Linked DNA regions of Homo sapiens: region 1 is linked to region 2. Evidence: fine-mapped expression QTL. A gene starts in region 2. The other region holds a variant in brackets. All regions are shown on one strand. Distances are from middle to middle.

The links. PIP is the estimated chance that this variant, and not a neighbour inherited with it, causes the effect.
Region 1: its variant is the best candidate, but not a certain one, in a credible set for the expression of ATP5PD in pancreas (GTEx, PIP 0.79).

The regions. Positions count from the first base shown.
Region 1 is chr17:75,020,108-75,025,462 of GRCh38, forward strand. MRPL58 (mitochondrial ribosomal protein L58) reads left to right here. Exons shown (of 6, transcript NM_001545.3): 4 at 206-288; 5 at 381-550; 6 at 814-1,154. The coding sequence ends at 898. Among named protein-coding and RNA genes, the nearest start is that of MRPL58, 10 kb to the left of the region's middle. RefSeq lists an enhancer at 1-920 and a silencer at 5,084-5,241. The variant C/T (reference allele first, on the strand shown) is at 2,758.
Region 2 is chr17:75,044,303-75,049,671 of GRCh38, forward strand. ATP5PD (ATP synthase peripheral stalk subunit d) reads right to left here and starts at 2,667. Exons shown (of 6, transcript NM_006356.3): 1 at 2,623-2,667. It overlaps KCTD2 (potassium channel tetramerization domain containing 2), which reads left to right and starts at 2,923. Exons shown (of 6, transcript NM_015353.3): 1 at 2,923-3,287; 2 at 4,918-5,026. The coding sequence starts at 2,949. RefSeq lists enhancers at 2,134-2,203, 2,142-2,727, 2,612-2,906 and a silencer at 2,604-3,033.

The DNA.
Region 1 (5,355 bases), 24 kb before region 2:
GTGCTTAGTTACTGGAAGTCTATTTTTGCCCAAAAGTGCCTCACTGTCTTTGCGGGCTTGTTCATAGCCAACTTGGACATAGGCTACAATGTACATGGTTAGGTGTCTGGCCTCCCTTTATTTCAGAATGGTCACTGGTCACCCAGGGGTTGATCCTTCCTGGAAGTCTCAGGCACCCATGCTCCCTTCTCCCTTTCCTCCACAGTGAATTCCAAGGCAGAAGTCAGGTTCCATTTGGCAACTGCCGAGTGGATCGCGGAGCCCGTGCGGCAGAAGATAGCCATCACGGTAACCACCATCCCTTTCTTTCCCTAGAAATCCCTCAGTGGCTTTTAAACCTTTACTCTGTAGGACTCCAGTTTTTCATTTGTTCTCTGCAGCATAAAAACAAGATCAACAGGTTAGGAGAGTTGATCCTCACCTCTGAGAGCAGCCGCTATCAGTTCCGGAATCTGGCAGATTGCCTGCAGAAAATTCGAGACATGATCACTGAGGCCAGCCAGACACCGAAGGAGCCAACAAAAGAAGATGTTAAACTTCATAGAATCAGGTACCAGGAAATGCCCTAAGATGCTATAAACTGATTTGTGTGGACAAGAGTCTACACAGGTAAGGAAGGGGCAGGGGAGAGTCCAAGGCCGGCCTTGGGAGAAACTCTAGGAAGAGGAGAGGATGCTGACCTGGGACCGAGGCCTGCGGGCTAGTGCCTGCTGGTGTAACTGCTCGGCTTCCCGTTGAGCTCCCAACTCCTCTCACCACTTTGAAAAGCACTGATTGGGCATCTGGGGCTAATTGCAGTCTTTTTGTTTTCAGGATAGAAAACATGAATCGGGAAAGGCTGAGACAAAAGAGAATTCATTCTGCTGTAAAGACAAGCAGGAGGGTCGACATGGACTGAAATCACCCTCTGCAGCTGGGAGGGCTCTTCTGGGCGTCCGGGCAGCTGCAGCTGAGAGGACTTTCACACCATAAGGAGATTTCTGTTTTTCTTTTTGGCTGTTAATGCTTGTCTATAACATTGGAGCCATCACAAGAATGTTCATTTGGAATGAAGGCTGCAGGCACTGGTTGCAGACGTCTTTATAGGCAGTCACCATGTTGTCAAACCTTAATAATGCACCTCATGTATTAGTCACAATAAAAATCAGAACTCATTAGGCTTCCCTTCTCATTCAGAATGCTTCAGAAAACAATTCCTACCTTTTCTCTCAGTTAAATCAGCCGCACAGTTATCGACACAGCACTGGGGAACAGGAAAGGGTTCTGGTGTCTGCTGTGAAAGAACACACAGGCCAGGCGTGGTGGCTCACGCCTGTAATCCAAACACTTTGGAAGCCAAGGCAGGAGGATCACACGAGGTCAGGAGGTCAAAACCAGCCTGAGCAACATAGCAAGATCTCATCTCTACAAGAACTACAAAAATTAGCCAGGTGTGGTGATACATGTCCATAGTCCCAGCAACTTGGGAGGCTGAGGCAGGAGGATCACTTGAGCCCCCCAGGAGTTCAAGGTTGCAGTGAACCATAATTGCACCACTGCAGCCTGAGTGACAGAGCAAGACCGTGTCTCAAAAAAAAAAAAAAACCACCGGGCGTGGTGGCTCACACCTGTAATCCCAGCACTTTGGGAGGCTGAGGTGACCAGCCTGGCCAACGTGGTGAAACCCTATCTCTACTAAAATAGGTGGTGGGCACCTGTAATCCCAGCTACTCGGGCCGAGGCAGGAGAATTGCTTGAACCCAGGAGGGTGACGTTGCAGTAAGCCAAAATCACACCACTGCACTCCAGCCTGGGCAACAGAGCCAGACTCCGTCTCAAAAACAAAACAAAAAGAAACTACACACACAACCAGGTAGGAGGGCTGAGACAGGTAAGTGGGCATTTGAGCCGGGCTATGGAAAAGGCATGGGACTTTCATCAGTAGACGGGAGGCGGACATGCCATTTGAAGGGAACAATGAACACAAGAGACAAAAGAGGCTGAGGTGGAGGGGGTGACAAAGAAGGCAAAGGCACTGAATGGTGGATTCGTGCAGGGTGATCCACCATTGCAGCGGGAGGTGAACCCAGAGAGAGACCGGCTTGATGTGGAGAGCCTTGAATTCAAGTTAAGGAGTTTAGGTTCTTTTATTTTTGAGATGGAGTCTCACTCTGCCATCCAGGCTGGAGTGCAATAGCGTGATCTTGGCTCACTGCAACCTCCTTCGCCCAGGTTAAAGCGATTCTCCTGCCTCAGCTTCCCCAGTAGCTGGGGTTACAGGTGCATGCCACCATGCACAGCTAATTTTTGTATTTTTGTAGAGATGGGGTTTCACCATGTTGGCTGGGCTGCTCTTGAACTCCTGACCTCAGGTGATCCGCCCACTTCGGCCTCCCAAAGTGCTGGTATCACAGGCGTGAGCCACTGCACCCGGCAAAGGTTTTAAGAGATGTGGGTAACAGAAAGCTGTTGGGAGAAAAGCTGAGCGTTGGGAGAAAAGCTGAGTGTTGGGAGAGAAGCTGAGGCAGGGCTTGCATGTCTGCTAGACTTGCTGGCTCCTTGCTTCTAGCACTCCCATTCTCTCAAGCAGCCGTATGTTTCTCCTTCACTTGATACACTTTCTTTTCAACCCCCACATCCTCACCACCTGTTTCTTTGAGCACCAATAAATACCGTGGGCTCCCAGAGCTGGGGGTCTTCACAGCCTCAACACTGGCGATGGCTTCCTGGTGCTACTTTCTCTCTCAAACTGTCTTTTTCTAATTCCTTTGACTCCGC[C/T]GGACTTTGTTGCCCCCATGACCTGGTGTTGGGTCTGATCACCTCAACATTCCTGGCTGCCCAACGTGGGGTGACAAAGACCCTGGTGAAGGAACGCTAGAGCGTGTGAAAGCGGAGAACACATCGTCAAAGGACACCCAAAGGCGTCTAAAAGAAGCTCGGCAGGAAAGCTGAGCGCTCGGAAGAACCAGGGTAACAATGGGATAAAGTGAAAGACATTTTGCTTATTTAAATTTATTTTATTATTTTTTTTTTTTTGAGAGGAGTCTTGCTCTGTCGCCCAGGCTGGAGTGCAGCGGCGCGATCTCGGCTCACTGCAAGCTCTGCCTCCTGGGTTCAGGCCATTCTCCTGCCTCAGCCTCCCGAGTAGCTGGGACTACAGGCACCCGCCACCGCGCCCGGCTAATTTTTTGTATTTTTTTTTTTTAGTAGAGACGAGGTTTCACCGTGTTAGCCAGGACGGTCTCGATCTCCTGACCTCGTGATCCGCCCGCCTCGGCCTCCCAAAGTGCTGGGATTACAGGTGTGAGCCACCGCGCCCGGCCTTATTTAAATTTCTTAAGGCATTTATTACGAAGAGGGGGAGTGAAAGTACTCAGAATTTGTTGGCATTTATTATGAAGAGGGGGAGTGAAAGTTAGTACTCAGAATTTGTTATCACTCTTTAGTACAGTAAAGCAGTTTTGCCCATGGCTTCCGGAACAAGCGACTATGGAGTTGGATGAATGGGAGAGAATCGGCAGAGATTTTTAAAAGGCGTATAAAGAGGGAGCAGATATTCCAGTTTCTATTTGGTCATGTGGGCGCTAATAAAGGCAGCTCTTGAGCCATTTCAAACAGATGATGAGGCAGATTGAGATGAGGAAGAGGAGGATGAGTGTAAAAAACTAACTTCAGATTCTGAGTGTGAGGAACAGCTACCGGAGGAGATTAAAGAAAGGAAAACTAAAAAAAGTATGTTTTACTAGCCCGTCGGCGCCCCCTGCTAAATTAAGTGAATGGCCACCTCCTCTCTCTCCTCTTAATGGGTGAGAAGATGAATTAGCTGAAAAACTTACTACTCCTATAGTTGCAATATTAAAACCTGGAGCAATTGGTGATGCTATAGAAAATTCTATTCATAAAGCTAGAGCCGAGGGAGACCTTGAAGCATGGCAATTTCCTGTTACTATCATCCAGCAGAGAAGACAGAATACAGCTAATTGGCCACTTTTCCTTTTAAGTTACTAAAGGAATTTAAGCAAGCCATTAGTCAATACGGACCGAACTCTCCTTTTGTGCAAACTCTATTAAAAAATATGGCTCTTGATAATAGATTAATACCATGTGGCTGGGATACTTTGACAAAATCTGTTCTCACCCTATCTCAGTATTTGCAGTTTAAAACCTGGTGGGCTGATGAAGCTCAAACTCAGGCAGGGGAAAACATACAAGCACAGCCACCTGTGCCTGTTTCCTTTGAACAGTTAATGGGAGTTGGCCCTAACTGGGGTTGATTAGAGAAATCAAGCAGTAATGGAGGATGCTGCCATTGTTCAGCTGCGCTTTGTGTGCTTATGGGCATGGGAAAGGATAAATGTTACAGGCGAAAAACATCCTTCTGTCAGTTCTATCCGTCAAGGACCTAAAGAACCATATATTGATTTTATTGCTCAGCTCCAAGAGGCTGTGTATAAAGCCATTACTAATAAAACGGCTCAGGATGTTGTAATACAGCTTCCTGCATACGAAAATGCTAGTGCAGTGTCAAACTGCTATTAGACCCCTGAGAGGGACGGCTCATTTAGCTAAATATATTAAGGATTGCGATGGCATTGGAGGTAACTTACATAAGGCAACTCTTTTAGCTCAGGCTATGGCTGGATTAAGAGTAGGAAAGAATATACCCCATTTCTCAGGCCCTTGCTTTAATTGTGGTCAATTTGGACACCCAAGAAAGGAATGTAGAAAAGGAAATCAAAAGGCAAACATTACTACCATCAGTCAACAGAAAAGTCCCGGTATATGTCTCCAGTGTAAGAAAAGCAAACACTGGGCAAGTCAGTGTCATTCTAAATTTAACAAGGATGGACAACCTCTTTCAGGAAACGGGAAGAGAGGCCTGCCTCGAGCCCCTCAACAAACCAAGGCACAGCCATGCCCTTACAAACGTGCAACAATTGTCCCCCACTTCAGCAGGCAGTGCTGCCATAGACCTCTACAGCACAATTACCATCTCCTTAGGAGAGGTGAAGCCGACTGGGCTTCTGGGTCGGGTGGGGACTTGGGTAACTTTTCTGTCTACCTAAGGATTGTAAACACATCAATCAGCACTCTGTCTAGCTAAAGGTTTGTAAACGCACCAATCAGCACTGTGTAAAAACGGACCAATCACCTCTCTGTAAAATGGACCAATCAGCAGGATGTGGGTGGGGCCAAGTAAGGGAATAAAAGCTGGCCACCCAAGCCGCAGTGGCAATCCGCTGGGGTGCTGTTTCATGCTGTGGAAGCTTTGTTCTTTTGCTCTTCACAATAAATTTTGCTGCTGCTTCCTCTGGGTCTGCACTACCTTTATGAGCTGTAACACTCACCGTGAGGGTCTGTGGCTTCATTCCTGAA
Region 2 (5,369 bases):
TCACGCCATTCTCCTGCCTCAGCCTCCCGAGTAGCTGGGACTACAGGCGCCCGCCACCGCGCCCGGCTAATTTTTTGTATTTTTAGTAGAGACGGGGTTTCACCTTGTTAGCCAGGATGGTCTCGATCTCCTGACCTCATGATCCACCCGCCTCGGCCTCCCAAAGTGCTGGGATTATAGGCGTGAGCCACCGCGCCCGGCCCTAATTTTTGTATTTTTAGTAGAGACAGGGTTTCTCCACGTTGGCCAGGATGGGCTGAAACTCCAGACCTCAGGTGATCCACCCACCTCAGCCTTGCAAAGTGCTGGAATTACAGGCATGAGCCACCGCGCCCGGCCTGCATTTTAAGAGGTATTCAACACATGTGAAAATGTGAGAAAAATACAGAAAACGACTACAGCCACTTAAAAAAAAAGTCAGAATATAGGAAAATAGTCCTCTTTAAGTAAGATCAGGGTCAGATATTAAAAGACTGCAAAGTCAAAAATCTCTATAAGCTTGGAGTGGAATGCAAGGGAGGCGGAAGCAGTCTTTCTCAGGATCTTCAAGAAAGTTGTCAAACACCTGTCCTGTCCTTCCTTTCTTTCTCAGGACAGCCTGTTTCCTGTTGTGGAGGGGAGGTGTTAAGGCAATTGGCATGTGATTTTAAAGTTACCAGGGAACCAAGCACCCTTACAGACTTTCCCAAACATCAGTGTATCGGGGAACTTGCCCCGATAGTCACATAGGTTCTTTTCTATTTTCCTAAGCGTCGACTGGCTTGACAGAGTACAAAAGAGAGAAATTTTAAAGCTGGGCGTCCGGGGGAGACATCACACGTTGGTAGGATCCGTGATGCCCCACAAGCCACAAAAACCAGCAAGTTTTTATTAGGGAGTTTCAAAAGGGGAGGGAGTATACGAATAGGTGTGGGTGACAGACATCAAGTACTTAACAGGGTAATAGAATATCACAAGGCAAGTGGAGGCAGGGTGAGATCACAAGACCACAGGACCAGAGCGAAATTAAAATTGCTAATGAAGTTTTGGGCACCATTGTCATTGATAACATCTTATCAGGAGACAGGGTTTTCAGATCAACCGGTCTGACCAAAATTTATTAGGTGGGAATTTCCTTTTCCTAATAAGCCTGGGATCGCTATGGGAGACTGGAGTTTATTTCACCCCTGCAGTCTCAACCATAAGAGACAGGTACGCCCCAGGGGGGCCAGTTCAGAGACCTACCCCTAGGTGCGCATTCTCTTTCTCAGGGATATCCCATGCTGAGAAAAAGAATTCAGCGATATTTCTCCCATTTGCTTTTGAAGGAAGAGAAATATGGCTCTGTTCTGCCCGGCTCACCGGCGGTCAGAGTTTAAGGTTCTCTCTTGTTCCCTGAACAATTGCTGTTATCCTGTTCTTTTTTCAGGGTGCCCACATTTCATATTGCTCAAACACACATGCTGTACAATTTTTGTAGTTAACACAATTATTACAGGGTCCTGGAACGATATACATCCTCAACTGACAGGATTAAGAGATTAAAGACAAGACAGGCATAGGAAATCAGAAGAGTATTGACTGGGGAAGTGATAAGTGTCCATGAAATCTCTACAATTTATGTTTAGAGATTGCAGTAAAGACAGGCATAAGAAATTACAAAAGTATTAATTTGGGGAACTAATAAATGTCCATAAAATCTTCACAATCCACGTTCTTCTGCCATGGTTTCAGCCGGTCTCTCTGTTTGGGGTCCCTGATTTCCCGCAACATCAGTGGAAAATGGAAGTCACAAATAACTTTGTGTGTGTGTGTGAGTGAGACGGAGTCTCGCACTGTCGCCTGGGCTGGAGTGTAGTGGCGTGGTCTCGGCTCACTGCAACCTCCGCCTCCCGGGTTCAAGCGATTCTCCTGCCTCAGCCTCCCGAGCAGCTGGGATTATAGGGGCCTTCCACCACGCCCAGCTAATTTTTTGTATTTTTAGTAGAGGCGGGGTTTCACTACGTTGGCCAGGCTGGTCTCGAACTCCTGACCTCGCGATTCGCCCGCCTTGGCCTCCTAAAATTCTGGGATTACAGGCGTGAGCCACCGCGCCCGGCGAAATTTTTTTTAATTCTTAAAAATCTATTGCTTAATCCCCAGCGCCTAGAACAGATCATGCGCATAGGAGGTGCTCAATGAATCTTTCTTGAATGAGTAACCGAACTCTGCACCCGAGGAGCCCTGAACGCTCTATACGTTCGAATCCTGGAAGCTGCCGAAGGGGAAGGGCGCAGCCCCGCAGCCAGCTGAGCGTCCCTCGGCAGGTTAACACTGTCTGCGTAATGTTTCCCCAGTCCCCCCACCAAACTATTGAAGTCTGCCGCGCTGGGAGCGGACTGCACGAGACACGGCTTGTGGCAGCGCCTACATCAGCGGCGCCTGGGACACAGCCGGGCCCCCCTGACCCCGCGCGCCAAGGAGGGCTGAGGAAGGGATCGCGGGGCGAGGAGCGGCAGCTACACAAGGGACACTCTGCCAGCGGGGCAAGCCGAGGGCCCAGCGTCCTTGACGGGGGCGTGACAAGGGTCGGCGTGAGGTTTGGAGAGGGCAGAGCAGAGGAGCCCTCCAGGGATCGGATCCAATGCCCCAAGCCCCACTCACCTTCACCGACCCTGGCTGCCCACGGTCCTCCGCAGCAAGTAACGGAAGTGGGTCACGGGAAGATCTTTCCTCAGCCAACCCCAAAGCCAAGGGGGTGGGCCTTGCTTCGCAGATCAGCCAATAGAGATGAGGGCTGGTTCCGGAAGTATCTTCCCGGGGGCGGGCACAGCGCCTCCCCCGCGCGGGTCCCCGGGCGCTGGTTGGGGGCGCTCCCGTCCCTCTCCCCTCTGCCCCACCCCCGCCGATGGGCCGGCCCGGCTCTCCCTGCCGAGAAATGGGCCGGCCCGGCTGCGCGCGGGCAGCAGCGGTGGCGGCGGCGGTCCAAGATGGCGGAACTGCAGCTGGACCCGGCGATGGCGGGGCTGGGAGGGGGCGGCGGGAGTGGGGTGGGCGACGGGGGTGGCCCAGTCCGCGGGCCCCCCAGCCCACGCCCGGCTGGCCCCACGCCCCGCGGGCACGGCCGCCCGGCTGCCGCCGTCGCGCAGCCGCTGGAGCCGGGTCCCGGACCACCCGAGCGGGCAGGGGGCGGCGGCGCGGCCCGCTGGGTCAGGCTGAACGTGGGAGGCACCTACTTCGTGACCACCAGACAGACCTTAGGCCGGGAGCCCAAGTCATTTCTCTGCCGCCTCTGCTGCCAGGAGGACCCGGAGCTGGACTCAGACAAGGTGTGCCCCGCCCTCGGGCGCGCCCCCGGGCCTTCGAACCCCCTGGTTTCTCGTAGATCGGTCCCCAGAGTCCTGAGACACGCTCCTCACAGGCAGCCCCCTCAGGCCGGGACCCCATCCTCCCCCTCCCTCCCACACTACTCGCAGGGGCCTCAGAGGGACCTCCCACTCCCCTTCTTCCATGCTGAGGCATACTCTGGCTTTCTCCCCGACCCCGCCCTTCGTTCTCTGAGACTCCTTCCCACACTGCGCCCACCTGCACCCACGAGAACGCACTCCACACCCCTTCTCCATATTCTCTGCCCCTGACATCCCACTGAGATCTGCATGAGTTTTCCCTGGCTCCTCTTCAGTCCCCCCACTGCCGGTGCCAGATGCATCCAGAACTGGGTCAGGGTTAGCTCAGGCATCCTTGTAGCTTTCTCAGACTCCCTCTCGGACCCCTCTGCCAAGTTGGGCTTCCACAGCTGCAGGAAGCGCTCCTTGTGATATCACACTGCTTTTCTATAGTCCTGGTCGCAGAACTTTTATCTGTTAACAGTCACTGGTTTAGGTCCATATTTAGATCAAATGCGTTTTTTGGAAAGAGGTTACTGTTTGCCGCTGCAAATCTAGGCTAAGACAGAAGGAAAATGAAAATTTTCCCGGGAAAATTTTGGGCAGGATGCATGGCTGCTAACCAAAGGGTTGAGAGGTGACAAGACACTTAAACCATTTCCAGTTTGAACTGTGTCAATTTCTTTTTAACTTTACGTATTCACCTTTAAGTTCTCAACTTAAAGGCACTGACCATAACTCACACCATCTTATATCCCATATAGCACTCAGCTGGTGACCTCAAAACAGAGCTGGAGTTGCGTAAACATTTGTTGTTTTCGTTTATTCCTCTTCTCTAAGAAATCTCAGATTGATGGAAACCTATCCTGCCCTAACTTTAAAGAGATTTCAAAACCCTTGCTTATAAAGGAATTATTTTTATCTACTCTATATCCTCCTTGTGGTAATAGAAGCCAGTTTCTTCTTGTTCCTTTTACTGTAAAGATGAGTAGGATTAAAGCTGCTCAGAGCCAAGTCCTGGCAGTACCGAGCTTCCTCTGGGCACAGAGCTGGGGTGTGTGAGATTACAGCTGGCAGTGCAAACTCCCACTGATGTTGGCCTTGAGCTCAGGAGCATTGCCAACTACACAGAGGTTTTCTTGGAATTAGGAATGCAGTTCAGAGGCAGTGGAAAAGTCAGAATGTCCATCTCAAGCAAAGATTTCAGTTACACAGCTACGGCATTTTCTCCCTTTCTTAATAACAAACACGCTACAGAAGAATGTTTGTCACTGTAATTATTGTCCAGGCAAAGATTGCAAATTCCAGCCAGTAAGTAAACGCCTAAATGAGTATGACTGTCTGTAACACCCTACCTAAGATGATCTTAATGTACAAGATACATAAAGCTATAGCTTTCTTACCAATAGTTTGTGACAAATGTGTAACAAAATTTGCCATCACTAAAGTCTTTTTTAGCTGATGGAATGAATTGTTGTCTTGGGGCGCTGACAAAGATGGTGAAATCCTGCCCTGCCTTTGTTTAAAATACTCCTCAAAGGTCCACAATGATACCCTTGTGTTTGGTTGGCAGGATGAGACAGGAGCCTATCTGATTGACAGGGACCCCACCTACTTTGGTCCTATCCTCAACTACCTCCGCCACGGGAAACTCATCATCACTAAGGAGTTGGCAGAAGAAGGTAAGCGCACTGTTTGCATTGGGGATTTTCAAAATGCAAGTAGAATCTTTAAAGTTGTTTTACAGATTTCAATTTTGTTTGACATTTTCATCAGGCGCATGTGCAGGTATAGTTTCAGGTTTATGAAACAGAGCAGAAACTACCAGTCTTGTCTGAGGGAGTCATGATTAAGGAAGCCTCCTTAGGCTTTGTTCAGCTTCCTGGGTGAGAAGGAAGATAGGTAGCTCCGCTTTGCAGATAACTTCAGGAGTTCTTTCCGAATCTCCAGAATTGTCACGATCCTTTTTTTACATTTGTTTGTGTGCTAGCAGTGAGTGTCTGTAGTCTGAAGAAGCAAGACATC